2 separate regions of the Homo sapiens genome follow, and region 1 is reported to be linked to region 2. Evidence: microRNA targets listed by miRTarBase, many of them from high-throughput screens and not tested one by one. Region 2 holds a microRNA gene; the other region holds the end of a gene's coding sequence.
Evidence for each region. The annotated mature microRNA hsa-miR-320d reads AAAAGCUGGGUUGAGAGGA and lies in region 2 at 2,564-2,582, shown strand. An mRNA with a match to its seed (bases 2 to 7 or 8) in the 3' UTR can be bound and repressed. Matches are read on the target gene's strand: a 7mer-m8 pairs with bases 2 to 8, a 7mer-A1 pairs with bases 2 to 7 and ends in A, and an 8mer does both.

Region 1: miRTarBase lists TAL1 as a target of hsa-miR-320d. Seed matches in the 3' UTR shown: 7mer-m8 at 1,809-1,815.

What each region holds. Positions count from the first base shown.
Region 1 is chr1:47,215,333-47,220,332 of GRCh38, reverse strand. TAL1 (TAL bHLH transcription factor 1, erythroid differentiation factor) reads left to right here. Exons shown (of 5, transcript NM_001290403.2): 5 at 159-4,042. The coding sequence ends at 613. Among named protein-coding and RNA genes, the nearest start is that of TAL1, 14 kb to the left of the region's middle.
Region 2 is chrX:140,923,574-140,928,753 of GRCh38, reverse strand. It overlaps MIR320D2 (microRNA 320d-2), which reads left to right and starts at 2,523; the gene lies at 2,523-2,594.

The DNA of each region.
Region 1 (5,000 bases), not on the chromosome of region 2:
GATGAGGAAGCACAGGAACTTGAATTTGAAGGGTGGATGTTTTCTAAGTAAAAGGAAAGTAGGCATTCTAGGCTTCCCAAGTTTCCCAATGTATGGAGATGCCTTTGGGGAAGGAATCTCAAGCCCATTCTCCTAACTCTTGTCCTCCTAATCTCCAGGTCCCCACACCAAAGTTGTGCGGCGTATCTTCACCAACAGCCGGGAGCGATGGCGGCAGCAGAATGTGAACGGGGCCTTTGCCGAGCTCCGCAAGCTGATCCCCACACATCCCCCGGACAAGAAGCTCAGCAAGAATGAGATCCTCCGCCTGGCCATGAAGTATATCAACTTCTTGGCCAAGCTGCTCAATGACCAGGAGGAGGAGGGCACCCAGCGGGCCAAGACTGGCAAGGACCCTGTGGTGGGGGCTGGTGGGGGTGGAGGTGGGGGAGGGGGCGGCGCGCCCCCAGATGACCTCCTGCAAGACGTGCTTTCCCCCAACTCCAGCTGCGGCAGCTCCCTGGATGGGGCAGCCAGCCCGGACAGCTACACGGAGGAGCCCGCGCCCAAGCACACGGCCCGCAGCCTCCATCCTGCCATGCTGCCTGCCGCCGATGGAGCCGGCCCTCGGTGATGGGTCTGGGCCACCAGGATCAGCCAGGAGGGCGTTCTTAGGCTGCTGGGATGGTGGGCTTCAGGGCAGGTGGGGTGAGAATTGGGCGGCTCTGAAGCAAGGCGGTGGACTTGAACTTTCCTGGATGTCTGAACTTTGGGAAGCCTTTACTGACCCTGGGGCTGGCTTTTCTGTTTCCTGTACCAGTAGGAGATCAGAAAAATGGAGCAAAGTGGTAGGTACTTTTTGTGAAGACGGCACGGTCTTCCCTCTTCCCTCAGTCCCAAATCCTTCCCAAGTAAGAGGCTGGAGTTGTCACTGCTTTTGGCCTGGAGTTTGGGATCCCTGTCTTTCCTAAGACCTGGGGTTGTCAGCTCTCATCTGAGGCATCCAGCAGTCTCTGCCTTGCCTTTAGCCCCTCCCAAGCTGGCTGGGGTGGCCTGTGTGGCCACTTCTGTCCATATTTATAGGTACCCAATAGCTGCCCATTTCGTGAGCCCCATCTTCACCCAGGCCTATGTTGATCCATCCAGCTTGCCAGATGCTGCAGAGTCACAAGCCTCGAGGTGCCTTCTTCAGGGCCTGGTTGAAGAAGATGATCAGTGGACAGTCTGCTCTAGATGAGCTGGGCCGGAGGGTCAGGAAACCCAGTCGCCCTTACTTCTTGCCCTGGGGATCAAAGTTCTGCTTTCTCCCCAATGAGACTTGCCTTCCTAAGCCTGTGGCTGTGGAGACAATGTCTGCAGCCCTGAGAAAGCCCTGTCGGGCTTTGTGTGAAGGCAGAGAAAGGGACAATGATAGTAGAGTGATATGGAGCAAGAGATATTTTGGGCATGTGGGCTTCAACTCCTCGACATCACTGTTCATGCTGGCGAGTGAATGCCAGTGTGCTGATGGGCGTACGCTGGTGCTGAGTAGATGCGCAGCCCCATCTGTGCATTCTCCTGGATGCTTAGAGGGATTTCTTTGCTGTAAGATGTCTGTTTGCTGATGGTCTGGTCTATGTTCCGAATTGAGCACAAAACCTGTCCTATGAATGCTTTGCATTTGGAATTTTTGCTTGACTTCAGTTATTGGTGGAATCTTTAGCGCTCAATAGGACCAGGATCCAGCCTCACTTCTAGGGTATGGGAAATCCAATCAGAGACCAGGCCCTGGCTAAGACCCAAACATATGCACATTCACTTAGCAGAACCTTAAACACCCCTCAGTTGTGCAGCTTTTGGTCATCAAGGGTGCGTCTGGGAGGTTGGTTTAATGCAATAGAAGTGCTCCCCTCTGAAAGTTGTACATGAAATTTTTGTAAATCACATCCTTATCCTTCATCTTTTAAAGAAATAACCACTGCAAGTCCTTTTGTAAAGTGAAGAATCCTTTTGTAGAATGAACCACTGCCCCTTCATTGATTTCCTGTGTCAATCCAGATGGTGGGATGTGGTTTTCTTAAGGTGAGGCCTGTCTGTGACCTGCATCTAAGCCCATGGGACAAATTGCACAGAAGTCCTGTATGTCTGTCATTGTACCCTTAAGTCACCCTAGCCCTCTCCCTCTAGGCTCTGCCTTCGAGGTCAGAGGAGAGATAGCCTGTGGCCCTGTCCTGCCATGCAAGAACTCATCACTGTGGCTGTCTGGAAAGCCCCCCCTTATAGTTTGGGCTTCAGCCTAGTGGCTTGTCCTCACCATGATGGGGCCCTAATTCAGCCATGTACAGACAGAGAATATGTCTGCTCCTTTCCCCTTCCTTTTAAGTAAGGTCCAATTCTCGAGCTTGGGGCAACATTGTTCACCTTTGTAGCACTCAGGCTCTCCATTCAATTTCAGGCTCCCCAGATCATGTTTTGGTGAAAATTAGGGTTGGTTCCTTTCCAACGTTTGGAAGATCCTGTGAGGAGCCCCATCTGTCTAAAGATAGAGTCATTGCTGTAGGATCTAAGGCTGTTTGCTTCACCGTGGATTCGCTTGAGTTAGGAATGAGAAGTAGCCACAGTATGGATGGGTGGATGGGTTTTATGAGATGGATCACATATTTTATTAAGAACTCAAACTTCTGGCTCCCTCTTCTTTCAGACTTGCCATGTGACTCTGGCTTGGCCTATCTCCTAGGGCTATGGTGTGGACTGAATGGGATCATGAAAGTAGACAGTTTTGAGAACGTAAAGAACTTTTTCTTTTCCCTCAATCTCAATCCTGCAGTGGGGTTTCGCAGCCTGAGTCCACGACCTAGGCAGTAGGCCGGTGTGCCTGACTGCCCAGCATTTGGGTAATTTAGATTGTAAACCGCTTTGGCCTGAGTTATTGAGATTGTCCTCATTTCTCCAGATTATCTATTTGTGTGTGTGTGTGTGTGTGTGTGAGAGACGGTGTCTTGTTCTGTCACTCAGGCTGGAGTACAGTGGTGCCATCATTGCTGTCTGCAGCCTTGAACTCTGGGCTCAAGCAATCCTCTCACCTCAGCCTCCCGAGTAGGGAGGACCACAGGTGTGAGCCACCACACCTGGCTAATTTTTACTTTTTTTTTTTTTTGGTAGAGATGGAGTCTTGCTATATTGCCCAGGCTGGTCTTGAAGTCCTGGCTTCAGGCAATTCTCCTGCCTTTGCCTCCAGAAGCACTGGGATCACAGGTGTCAGCCATTGCACCCAGCCCAGATTGTCTTAATTTCTATCTTGTTCCAAGGCCAGGGACAGTAATAAGAATGGAAAAGAGATATGGGAACACTGGCAGACTGTGTAAAATGTAATGCAACTACCCAAAACAAGCCTGGTAGGAAAGGGCAAGTCTTTAGGTCTTTGTAAGAACTAAAGAAGATCTGTAATTTTTATTTTCACCCTCTGTACCCCATGACCTTATCCTTCCTCTCCTTCCTTGTTACCCATGAAAAACTGGCAACATTCCAAGAATAGCATCTGTACAAAGGGGAAAGAACATAAAGGTAAAACAAAACAAAACAACATTTTGAGAACAAAGATGACCATAACCACTGAAGGGAATCACATCTTTTAAGACAAATTCATATTCTTTTATTTGTTATGGCAGATGACAAGATGGTACAACCTTTATTCTTTTCCAAAATAAAACAAAGGGCACAGCATCTGTAGTCAGCCGACAACTATTTCGGCCTTTTGGGGGTGGGTCTGGCCGTACTTGTGATTTCGATGGTACGTGACCCTCTGCTGAAGACTTGCCCCCTGCCCGTGTACATAGTGCATTGTTTCTGTGGGCGGGCCCAGCACTTTCCGTCAACGTTGTACTGTATGTGATGAATTGCGTTGGTCTCTGCATTTTTCTGCAGAAGAGGAGTAACCGCTCCAGGTACCTTGACCTTTGTACAGCCCAGAGGCCAACACTGTGGGTGTGTGACTCTTTAGCAAAAAAAACCCATGTGGTGATGATGTGTATATATATGTGAGGATGTATCGGGAAGATTTCTAAATAAAAGTTTTACAAAGGGGCCTTAGGACTCTGTGCTTGCATTGCACCCCTAGGCCTGAGACGGGATATTGAAAGAAAAGTCATGGCAAGAACCTGTTTCTCCTGACATGGGGAGCCTCCAAGACTCAGCTGTAGTCTTAGGAAGTGGGATTCCACCCTCAACCCTGAAGGCAGGCCTGGTGGGGAGGAGACAGCCTTCCTCCCCAGGGTTTCCATTCTTTCTCTCCACAGGCCTCATAGAGGGGGCCTGTCCCCTTGGCTTCATGCACCCATGCTTGTATCTCAGGAAGCCTCAGCAGACATCCCCTCTTTGTGTTGGGGTGAGCTTCCATGGCTGGGACAGTTGTATGTATCCTAGGTTCAGGACAGATTAAGGCCATACCATAGGAGGGCCCCAGGTTCCCTGATGACTCAACGGCTGCAGCGGCGGCTGCAGCTCTTATGCCTGGCTCTTAAGGATTGGGGACTCAGAGATGAAGTCTGAAGGTAATGGAAGTCGAGAGTGGAGGCTCTGTGGCAGGCTCCATATCATCTGGGAGGACTTCCCTGGAGGCTCAGGAATGGAAATGTGGTTTAGATGATACAACCCTTATTCTTTTCCAAAAATAAAACAAAGGGCACAGCACCTGGGTCTGGGGGAAGCCACTGCATGTGGACCATTTGATCCTCAGGGATTTCAGTAGGTCATGCAGGCACTTCTAATGAAGTATCATGCCTTCCTTTCTTTCTTTCATTTATTTATATATTTTTTCAAGATATGGGATCTTGCTTCTTCTAGCCTTTGCCCAGGCTGATCTTGAACTGAGCTCAGGAGTTCAAGGGCCATCAAGGTGAAAAAGAAACAAAAGGTGCAAAAACCAGAAGGTTTTTGTCTCAGTCCCTTGAGTAGTTAGGACTACAGCATGTGGAACTGGCACCCTGTTTCATTTAACAAATATTTATTGAGCATCTAGTATGGGCCTGGTATTGTTCTACGTA
Region 2 (5,180 bases):
ATCACTTGTCCTCATTCTATCACAACACAGTCATTCATTTATTCAATCATTTAGCACCTTATTCATTTGGTCAACTAATATGTACTGAGTATCACTTATTTAATTTACCAAAATCTACTGTGTGCTAGGAACTACACCAGGCACCAAAATGCAATGTTCTCTCTGGCTGCCAGTACTGGTGACAAATGCTAGGATGATGAAAAAAGATTAACACTGCCATCTGAGATGTGTCAGACATCAGCCTGACCAGCTTGTTTCAATTCACTTTTTTTTTTGTCTTCTCCATCATTCATTCATTCATTAACACAAGTATATACTGAGTGCCAGGCACTGTGTTAGCCACTAAAGATGTAATCGAGAGCAAAATCAAAGTCCCAGCCTGGAGTGGTGTCTTCTCTGGTGGAGAATACAGCTATTGATCAAAGAATCACACAAGAAATAAACAATTGTAACTGTGGCAAGTTCCCCGACAAGTCCATTGTGGCCCTCATCCGCGCCCTCAGCTTCATAGAGTACAACCAGAGCAGCTGCATTTTAGTCTCTTTTATGTATTGGGCTTCCAGGTAAGATTAATTGAGGGAAAAATTGGGGTTTGATTTTTAAAAGTTGGAAAGCCACTATTCTATGGCATTTAACTCTGTTATTATATTGGCGATGAATTTTTTTTTCTACTGAATCTTTGCAACTATATGTCTCAAATATGAGATGCACTTTCTTAAAAGTGATTTTTAATCTTGCTGACAGATTATTATTTCCCTAGGATCTCAAATTCCCTCATTGTGTAATCATTTTCTCTAAGATTTTCATCTATCTTTACATCCCAAATGAATCAGTATCAGCTAAATAAATAACTAAATAAATTAATAAAGCAAGAAAGGAATTCCTCTTGACTCACCTACTTCTGCACAAGGAGATTATCTCTAATGCAAACCCAATTCATTCTTGAAGAGGGAAATAACCTGCTAGATTGATCTATAATCAGACACTAAACCCCAATGACCACCCCAACTAGGTGCAAGCATGCTTGGTGTGTCGAACAAAAATGTCTTTAACTTCTACTTACTGAAAAATTTTTTTGATAGTGTTCATCTATGATATCACACTTATTCTTATCCCCTTCAAAAGAGCAACTGCAATATTTTACACTTGTATGATACCACACAATTTAAAAAGAACCTCAAATGCAGAACCTCATTTGATCCTTAACCAACTCAGTAACTTACAAGTAGTATTTGGAAATGGTCTCACCCAACTAGCCAGACACATCTGTCGATGCTTTACTTTTGAGTTTGGGGGATGTCTGCTTGCTAGTGGTAATATTTGTGTTTATGAAGTTCTGAACTACTAACAAGTGAAATAAAGAAAGAAACTTGTATATATTTTCTATTTTATATGGTTTCTATTATGCCCTCACCTCCAATTTTTCACTTACTCGGTTTTCAAGAAACGAGATTATACCGGGTACAAGCAAACCTTAAAGATGTGGATGCTGACTGGTTAAACATGGCATTTTAGCCAAACACCGTACCTTAGCTAACCAAACTATGTCCCTATCTTCATTTTGCAAATAAGATATTGAGGTACACTCATGCTCCTCCTAATTGTTTTAATGTTTTTGAGCAGATGGTACAGCCCTAATTCCACTGAAACAAACCATGGTGGGTTGAATAGGGACCCCAACCCAAAAGATATGTCCGCATCCAAATACCTGGAATATGTGAATGTTGCTTTATTTGAGGAAAGGGTTTTGTAGATGTAATTAAGGTAAGGATCTCAAAATGAGATTATCCTAGATTATCCAGGTGGACCCCAAAACTGATAACACGTGTCCTTATAAGAAACAGAAGAGAAGAGACAAACACATAGAGGAGAAGGTGATGTGAAGACGGAGGCAAGATTGGATTGATGCTACCACAAATCAAGGAATTCTTGGAGCCACCAAAAGCTGGGAGAGGCAGGGAACAAACTCTTTTCTAGAGCCTCTAAAGCAGCAATCCTCAACCTTTTTGGCACCAGGGACCTGTTTCATGCAAGACAATTTTTCCACGTACTCAGGGAGGTGTTGTTGGGGGGCGGTTTTGGGATTAAACTGTTCCACATCAGATCATCAGGCTTTAGGTAGATTATCGTAAGGAGCATGCAGCCTACATCTCTTGCATGTACAGCTCACAATAGGGTTGGTGCTCCTATGAGACTCTCATGTGGATGCTAATCTGACAGGAGGTGGAGCTCAGGTGGTAATGCTCACAGGCCCACTGCTCACCACTGGTCTGTGGCCCAGGGGTTAGGGACCCCTGCCCTAAAGGGAGTGTGGCCCTGTGGACAGCTTATTTTCAGACTGCTGCCACTGGAAATTGGGATTCTCCAGTCAATTACTTGTAGCCATTTTTCACATTAAAGTCTGTATATTCACTGTGTTCTTAGAGCCCTTGTAAAGCTAACCAGCTCTTATCACCTTTAAGCAAGTGGGAACTTTTAGCCTTTCTAAAGTTGTAATTCTACTTCTGAAATGTCTTCAAATGTATCAATAAGCCTTCTCTTCCCAGTTCTTCTTGGAGTCAGGAAAAGCTGGGTTGAGAGGAGCAGAAAAGAAAAAAGAAAAAAAAATCGTTATTTTTAAATTCAAGAAAAAAAGCTGGATTTCCCACTATTATATTGCCACAAAAAATTACTTATTTTAATGCACTCAAGTAAGCCTTGATATTGTGGGTTGTTGGAGAAAAATGCACTATTTCCTGTCTATAAACATCTAAAGAAGAAAAAACATCTAAAATAATCACATTTAGTATTCTTGCAGTATGATTTGGATGCACTTCTGAGGTAATCTCTATTTTACTTAATTTTTATTGCTCCAGTTCAGTTAGCTAGAGTTTTTTATGTTTAGATAGTGTGTATGTGTGTGTGTGTGTGTGTGTGTGTGTGTGTAATATGGGGGTGGCAAGAGGCTGTTTCAGTAGACCATCAAGTTATTCAATTTGTATGCTACTGCTCTAGCTGGATTTCACATATGATATTATTTACTATATTCCTTATGCATTAGGTAAAATAACAGTGGAAAGATAGAAATGTTTTTTACTGAGAATTGCTAGCATAAATTTGAAAAAAACAGCAAATCTGTCAAATTCTTATCATATTTATGCTATAAGACACTTACTGAAAGAAAAAACCCTCTTTTTATATAGCTTATAATTGCAATCCAGATAACATAAAACATTTCTCATTATGGAGGAAAATATGAATGTAAATCTTATCTACATAAAAAGGTTGATGTTTTATTTCATTTCAAAATTCACACAAAACATTTTGTGACTACTTCTACTTTGAAAAGACAGAGCAGATTTATATGAATTTTTATTAATTGCTTCAATCCTTCCTGGCTTTGACAGCCTGGAGTCCTGGAAAGACCATTGGACCTGATTTTAGAAAGCCTGCTCTGCTACTGTGTGAGCTAAGTGTCTGGAAACCTAGATTCTTAATCAAAAAACATGAAGATAAAAGAATCTGTACCACCTAGATCAAAGAGTTATTACCAACACATCTGCCTAATAAAATCCCACTCATCCTTCAGTGCTGTATTAGTCCATTTTCACACTGCTATAAAGAACTGCCTGAGACTATAAAGGAAAGAGGTTTAATTGACTCACAGTTCAGCATGGTTGGGGATGCCTCAGGAAACTTACAATCATGACAGAAGGTGAAGGGGAAGCAAGGCACCTTCTTCACAAGGTGGCAGGAAGGAGAATGAACAAAGGAGGACATGCCAAACTCTTATAAAACCATCAGATCTAATGAGAACTCACTCACTATCACAAACAGTATTGTGGAAACCACCCCCATGGTTCAGTTACTTCCACCTGGTCTCTTCCTTGACATGGGGATTACATAGGGATTACAATTTAACGTGAGATTTGAGTGGGGACTGATAGGGTTTGGCTGTGCCCTACCCAAATCCCATCTTGAATTATAGCTCCCATAATTCCCATGTATCATGGGATGAACCCAGTGGGAGGTAATTGAATCATGGGGGCAAGACTTTCCCATGCTGTTCTTGTGATGGTGAATGTCTTATGAAATCTGATGGTTTTATAAAGGGGAGTTCCCCTGCACATGCTCTCTTTCCTGCTGCCATGTAGGAAGTCCCTTTGCTCTTCCTTCATCTTCCACCATGATTGTGAGTCCTCCCCAGCCATGTGAGTCCATTAAACCTCTTTCTTTTATCAATTACCCAGTTTCAGGTATATCTTTATTAGCAGCGTGAGAACGGATTCATACAGGGACACAGCTGAACCATATTAAGTGCTAAGACCATCACACCTTCCTGTGAGGCAGTGACTTCTAGAGCTGCACATTGGAATCACCTAGGAAGCCAGGGCCACTCCCAGAGATCCTGAATTGCCAGCTTGGGTGGGGCATAGAGCCAATAAAAGCCCCTTGGGAAAACTGGCCTCCTATCTTGTCTGCACAGTCCCTGTACAGGGTTCCTGACCTGTGGTAAGTAAAGAATGTCACTTTCTAACAGGCCTAGGAGCCCCTTGTTATCTTGGGATCTCAAGAGGAGAGGAATTTACTCAACTCATAGGTATTTGAGGGTACAAACCCATGACTGTGCTCAGCTTTAAAAAAACTCTTATCTGAGATTCCTTTTATGGAACAAAGTTCCATCAAAGCCAATTTTAAAGGCCTATATAAAAACAATTATTCTTGCTGCACTTTACACAAATAATCAGGCCAAGTATAATAAAGCAAATCAGTCTTACTATGATTTGTCTTTCATAAAAATGGGATACTGGAGAGAGAAAAATATGTTTCAAAAACTATGATATACCTGTTACTCAATTATAGTCTCATCAGTTGTTTTTGAGTTTTTTTCTGCAAGTTAGACTAACTCTGCTTATTCCTGTGAACCAACCAGTGATCTCTGGCTGCTGATCAGAAGAAACAAGAGGGATGGTTAATGTAATAATCTGGATCAGTATTCTAATTCTGGGCATGTATTGGAATGTATAGCATGTATAGCAATTCCATATCAGCTTGGTTCCAACAGCTGCCCAGTTCATGGAAAGCCTTCTTATTGAGTTTACTTGGGATGGATTTACTTTTTTTTACTTTACTGTTGTGGAATATATTTGCTGTTGTACTCTTTGTGTAGGAATGATGGATAAGCTTACTCAACGTTTTCT